2 linked regions of the Homo sapiens genome follow. The protein of the gene in region 1 purifies or fractionates together with the protein of each later gene. This does not show direct contact. Each region holds a gene or a part of one and is shown on either strand. Other genes may lie near its edges.

Region 1 (3,160 bases):
AAGAAGCTATTTAAATCATAAAGGAGACTGGGCATGGTGGCTCATACCTGTAATCCCAGCCCTTTGGGAGCCAAGGCAAGAGGATTGCTTGAGCCCAGGAGACCAGCCTGGGCAACATGGCAAAACCTTGTCTCTATGAAATATAAAAAAAATAGCTGGGCTTGGTGGTGTGCACCTATATTCCTAGCTACTTGGGAGGCTGAGGTGGGAGGATCACTTGAGCCCAGGAGGTCAAAGCTGCAGTGAGATATTTGCACCACTGTGTTCCTGTCTGGGTGACAGAGCAAGACCCTGTCTCAAAAAAAAAAAAAAAAAAATCATAAAAAAATATAGATTTTTTTCCAAATATATTTTTTTATTTTAGGTACTTTTACAAGTTAATAAAAATACTTAAATTTAAACTAGAAACAGGCAAGAGATATGAACAGATGAAAATAATGACAGCCAGGACTAAAACTAGTTGATAGATATCTTTTAGTATGTGATTCCAGAGTTTCTCAGAATCTTGCCTAAGAAAATGGCCTCCTCCTAAATTTTACTGCCATAGCGAGGATTGGGAACTTGGACTGTTTTCCTTTTTGGTGGGCAAATGTACCTTGACTTTTTATTTTTTAGAACACGTCTTTATTTTGACAGTGTTCAAAAACATTGCTTTATGAAGAAATACATAATAAATGACTTTATTTTTCAGTAAACAAGATAAAGCTGCTTCTTCAAAAGAAAAAAATGGATGTAATGCAAATTCATTTGAAGGCTCATCAACAACAAAAAGTGAAGAAAGCATAACAGTTTCAGATAAGGAAAATGAAACCTGTCTTGCAGACCAGGAAACTGGCTCAAAAAACATCGTCAGTTGTGATTCAAATATTGGTGCAGATAAAGTGGAAAAGAAAAAACAAATACAACACGTTTGTCAGGAAATGGAGTTGAAGATGTGCCAAAGTTCAGAAAACATAATCTTATCTGATCAGATTAAAGATCACAACTCCAGTGAAGCCAGATTTTCTTCAAAGAATATTAAGGATTTGCGATTAGCATCAGATAATGTAAGCATTGATCAGTTTTTGAGAAAAAGACATGAACCTGAATCTGTTAGTTCTGATGTTAGCGAGCAAGGCAGTATTCATTTGGAACCTCTGACTCCATCCGAGGTACTTGAGTATGAAGCCACAGAGATTCTTCAGAAAGGTAGTGGTGATCCTTCAGCCAAGACTGATGAAGTAGTGTCTGATCAAACAGATGACATTCCTGGAGGAAATAACCCTAGCACAACAGAGGCAACAGTAGACCTGGAAGACGAAAAAGAAAGAAGTTGAAATTAGTCATTTTAAGTTTCAGTGTACCAACGATAAGGGCATTTGGAACAGTGCTATCAGGTGAGCTCAGTGGTGCTGTTGTAGGTTCAGAAATGGAAATATGTAAGGGAGGTCACACATACACTTTACCTGTATGTTCAACCTATGTTATCAAACAAATCAATTCACCAATAATAGCATGATTAGTAGGGATTCCCAAAAAGTTTTTAAAAACACGAACAGGATTTTAATGATAATTAAATTTGCAGTGGAAAGGTCTCATTTAATGGTTTTCAAGGAAATGGGATTTGGTTGCTGACATGAATTGATGATATTAGTAATATTTATAAAGCCTTTCAAACTTCCATCAATCCTAAGCTAAAAATCTTTATTACCTGTATATCCTTTTCAGTTAACTGAGAGGAAGGGATTTGGAAACCATGTACTTTTGGGGAGTAATTGATTAAAAACAATGGCTGATTGGCATTGTTAATGAAGGCTTTATTTGTGAGGATGATGCTGGTAAATGGAGCATGCTTAGAGTACTAAATTGATCTAATGAGAATTTGGATGAACATAAACTTAATTTTGGATTTAATATAACATTCCAGTCAGACGCATGTAAACAGAATATTTGAATCTTTGTACCTCCATACAAGTGTTAGCCTGCCAGGCTGTAAGCTTACCTTAATTAAACTTTCAGTGAAAGTGGAATTATTAAGATATAAATTTATATTTGTGCTTTTTGTCAGTGTGTAAGCTGTGTAGAAATTCTTTGATGTATTAGTTGTATTAATGTAAAGTAGAAACCCATTGTTGAAACTCCTGTAGCTATTATGCTTTTAATATTGTTTTAATGATCTTCCTTAGAAATAGGCCCATAAAAATGGTCTGGAAGCCAAACCAAAGTATGGTATAATGTAGATATTGTAAAGCAGTAAACTGAAAACATGTCCTGGCATGTATTCAGCCATGTTTAAGTGACTTTTCTGTAATTGTAAAATAAAAACTTCAAATGGGACCTAAAACAGTGATGTAAAAGAACTGGTTTTGGAAATTTAGCCTAATTTATCTATAAGATGGCTGCTAAATTGATTTTTCAGTTCTTTTTATCATCTAGAATATAATAGATATAGAAATGAATAATATGAAGAACAGTAGTTTGCTTTGAAATACTAATAAACTTTTATTTAAAATGCTTCATTTTTACTTCTTAAAATGTGCTTTGGATTCTTAAATTTTGTTTCACTGAATGTTCAATGTTTTAAATGGCGATTAAAATACTCTGCTGTATATAGTAGTTTTTGAGTAAATATTTGCAATAAAAATCTGCCCCCGAATAATTCTATTTTTCCAATCACTGCTTGATTCAGATTACCTTTGGTGCCTTTAGAAATTATATACTTGTTCAAGAAATTTAATATCAGTGTTAGTGGTGAGGATTCCATTCTACATTCTTTAACTGCTGATACATTATTTTAAATTAGGACTTAAAGTACAGGGGACAATATTGCTAATATTTATGAGAATAGATTTGCTTTATAAATTCTTTTACTTCAAGAGAAATAGAATTTAATATTATACTTTTCTATCTGCCCAACAATTTAAAGAGGCTAAATAGGCAAAATATATTATGAATTATTTGGAGTATTTTGGGGAGGAGAGCTAATATTTTTATCTTTCCTGCTCCCAAGAAAAGATAGGGAGAGAGGGAGCCATTAGCTCTCATCCTTCACCTTGTTAAAATGTAATTCTGTATCATGGAAGATTTTTGGAATAATATAAACCTTAGAAGAGCAGGGTTAGGAAAAACGCCTGTCTCTATAAGGACCACTTGTGAGTCTCATTCAGTCTGTTGCCACATT
Region 2 (3,826 bases), on another chromosome or scaffold:
TGTTCATTAGTGCCTGGCACATAGTAGGCCGTTCAGATTGTTGATGAATGAATGATGAATAGGGGAGCTTTGAGATCCATTCTGAGAACTCAGCCAAATTAATGTGCATAGTAGTTTGCTTGTCCTGTGTCTGTGACATTTGGCAGAGTTAAGCTGTTGCTTTGCCATGTTTGTCTTAGCCTCAGTTAGTTTCTTTTTGTTTGTTTGTTTGTTTGTTTTTTGTTTTTTTAAGACAGAGTGTCGCTCTGTTGCCAGGCTGGAGTGCAGTGGTGGCATCATGGCTCACTGAAGCCTCAACCTCCTGGACACAAGCAGTCCTCCCACCACAGCCTCTTGAGTAGCTAGGACTACAGTCTCATGCCACCATGCATGGCTTCTTTTTTGTGGGGACAGTCTCTGTTGCCCAGAATGGTTAGCTTCAGTTTTGTACTCACTCTGGTACTAAATATAGAAAAGGTATACAGGCTGTGCAACTGGCCGTTTTAAATACCTCAGGCCTCAGATTCTGGGTTTTGTCAGCAAGCAAATAGCTTGAATATATCTGTTTTAAAAGAATCTTGAAAAATCTTCTGTGTCCTTTGTATTGACCTGAGCAATAATTTACCAGTAGCAATGTCTGTTGAAAAATTGAATAGCCTTTCCAAGGTTATTTGGAGAAGTTACTCAGATATGGACAAAATTTAGATCTTGTCAATATTTGCATAGAATAACTTGTATTAAATCTTTCCTGCCTTTAGCATTTATACTTTGATGACCAGAAGGGGGCAACCTAATTTGTCTGTGAAATTGTGCCTTTTAAAATAATAGTTGACACTTTGAGTGCGTAACAGAACTATGGTATTAATTTTTTTTTTTTTTTTTTGAGACAGAGTCTCGCTCTGTCGCCAAAGCTGGAGTGCAGTGGCGCGATCTCAGCTCACTGCAACCTCCGCCTCCCAGGTTCAAGCGATCCTCCTGCTTCAGCCTCCGGAGTAGCTGGGACTACCAGGGGGCCCCGACAACGCCCGGCTAATTTTTGTATTTTTAGTAGAGATGGGGGTCTTGCCATGTTGGCCAGGCTGGTGTTGAACTCCTGACCTCGGGTGATCTACCCTCCTCGGCCACCCAAAGTGTTGGGATTACAGGTGTGAGCCACTGCGCCCAGCCTATAGTATTAATTTTTAACTGACAAGAATGGTGTATCCTTATGGGGTACAATGTGGTGGCGTTTTTTTTTCTTTTTTTGAGACGGAGTTTCGCTCTTGTTGCCCAGGCTGGAGTGCAGTGGCGCAATCTCAGCTTACTGCAACCTCCGCCTCCTCGGTTCAAGTGATTCTCCTGCCTCAGGCCTCCTAAGTAGCTGGAATTACAGGCGCCTGCCACCACGCCTGGCTAATTTTTTGTATTTTTTTAGTAGAGATGGGGTTTCATCATGTTGGCCAGGTTGGTCTTCAACTCCTGACCTCAGGTGATCCACCCTCCTTGGCCTCCAAAGTGCAGAGATTACAGGCGTGAGCCACCACGCCCAACTTGTGGTGGGGGTTTTTGAACTTTTATTTTTCTCACATAAATAGAGGCAGGGACTCACTATGTTGCCCAGGCTAGTTTCGAACTCCTGGCCTCAAGTAATCTTCCCACCTCACCCTCCCAAAGTACTGGGATTACAGACATGAGCCACTGCACCTGGCCCACTGTGGTGGTTTTTGTTTTTCTTTTCTTTTTTTAGACAAGTCTTGCTCTGTCACCCAGGCTGGAGTGCAGTGGTGCACTCCACTCAGCTCACTGCAGCTTCCACCTCCCGGGTTCAAGTGATTCTCCTGCCTCAGCCTCCTGAGGAGCTAGGAATACAGGTGCACACCACCATGCCCAGCTAACTTTTTTTGTATTTTTAGTAGAGATGAGGTCTCACCATGTTGGCCAGGCTGGTCTTGAAATCCTGACCTCAAGTGATCCACCCACCTCAGCCTCTCAAAGTGCTGGGATTGCAGGTGTGAGCCACCATGCCTGGCCACTGTGGTGTTCTGATACGTTTCCAATGTAGTCATAATTCTGGTCTAGCTTTCTAACCACTTTTATTTTATCTTAAATTCACCTTTGAAAGATAGCTTGAGGTATCTCTGTGTCCATACTAACATTTGTAGACTCTTGTGGCCTCTCAACCCAAAAATCTGTGTCAAAATATCCATGTCAACATACTCAAGGGGTTTTCCAAGTTTCAGAACACATCTCAGATAAAATTCAAAATGTATTCGCACACCAGCATTCTAGCCTTTGATCCTCTGGAATTCAAGGGCTGGTGTTCCTTTAAAAATGAAACTCCTGACTGGGCGTGATGGCTCACGCCTATAATACCAGCACTATGGGAGGCCTAGATGGGTGGATCACCTCAGGTGGGAACTGAAGACCAGCCTGACCAACATGGAGAAACTCCGTCTCTACTAAAAATACACAATTAGCTGGGCGTGGTGGTGCATGCCTGTAATCCCAGTGACTCGGGAGGCTGAGGCAGGAGAACTGCTTGAACCTGGGAGGCGGAGGTTGCAGGGAGCCGAGATTGCACCACTGTACTCTAGCCTGGGTGAAAGAGCAAGACTCCATCTCCAAAAAAAAAAGAAACTCCTGCTAACTGTGTGTGGCATAAGTTCTTGTTTTCTGCTTAGTCAAGTTTTCCATCTGGAAAGCATTTGCTTCGCAAACAGCCACAGCTTACAGACTACAAGCAGTTTAGAAACAAGACTACCACCTGAATATACTACACATGCCTTCACCTGCCTTTTGATGATTGGTATGTAGTTGCTGATTCTTTCAACAAAAGGTACTTCTTTCTTGTTTTCTCTTTAGGGCTTATGGATCAGATTTATCTTGCTGCTTATTCCCTTAAAAGCTTATAGCTTTGGAATTCTATTCCCTGATGCTTCTGAGACAGTCATCCTCTTTTTTTTGAGATGGAGTTTTGTTCTTGTTGCCCAGGCTGGAGTGCAATGGTGCAATCTCAGCTCACCGCAACCTCAGCCTCCCAGGTAGCTGGGATTACAGGCGTGTACCACCATGCCCAGCTAATTTTGCATTTTTAGTAGAGATGGGGTTTCTCCATGTTGGTCAGGCTGGTCTCGAACTCCCAACCTCAGGAGATCTGCCTGCCTCAGCCTCCCAAAGTGCTGGGATTACAGGCGTGAGCCACCGCGCCCCACCTGAGACATCCATCTTTATTGTCCATATAGGGTTCAACAACTTGTTCAGGTTCCAGACCTACCTTTAATTGTATGTGCAAGTAAAAATAGAAACAGAATGCTTTGGGAACCCCAAAGAAAAGAGAAATATTATTTAGCTAGGTTGGGTAGGCTTCATGGAGAAAGTAGCATTTTTAAGCTGGGTCTTGAAGAATGGATAGGATTTTGACTGTTGGCCCTGTACAGGAGCACACTACTTTCTTTTTTCTTTCTTTTTTTTTTTGAGGCAGAGTCTTGCTCTGTCACTGAGGCTGGAGTGCAGTGTCAAGATCTTGGCTCACTGCAACCTCTGCCTGCCTGGTTCAAGTAATTCTTGTGCCCCACCCTCCCAAGTGGCTGGGATTACAGGCATGCACCACCACACCTGGCTAATTTTTGTATTCTTAGTAGATATGGGGTGTCACCATGTTGGCCAGGCTGGTCTTGAACTCCAGGCGTCAAGTGATCCACCCGCCTCGACTTCCCAAAGTACTGATTTATAGGTGTGAGCCACCAAGCCCAGTCAGGAGCACACTTTTTTTTTTTTTTTTTCCTTTGAGACAGAGTCTTGGTCCGTCACCCAGGCTGGAGTGCAGTGGCGCGATCTCAGCTCACTGCATCCTAACCCCGTTTTCCGG

What was found.
Region 2: the proteins of ZNF280D (region 1) and CBX1 purify together in Homo sapiens (affinity purification with mass spectrometry; 4 studies listed by BioGRID and IntAct, with this or other methods). This does not show direct contact.

The regions. Positions count from the first base shown.
Region 1 is NC_000015.10:56,629,654-56,632,813, reverse strand, and holds the end of ZNF280D (zinc finger protein 280D), read left to right. Parts: intron 1-691; coding exon 692-1,316; 3' UTR 1,317-2,638; downstream 2,639-3,160. UniProt on the Homo sapiens protein: May function as a transcription factor.
Region 2 is NC_000017.11:48,094,653-48,098,478, reverse strand, and holds part of CBX1 (chromobox protein homolog 1), read left to right. Parts: intron 1-3,826. UniProt on the Homo sapiens protein: Component of heterochromatin. Recognizes and binds histone H3 tails methylated at 'Lys-9', leading to epigenetic repression. Interaction with lamin B receptor (LBR) can contribute to the association of the heterochromatin with the inner nuclear membrane.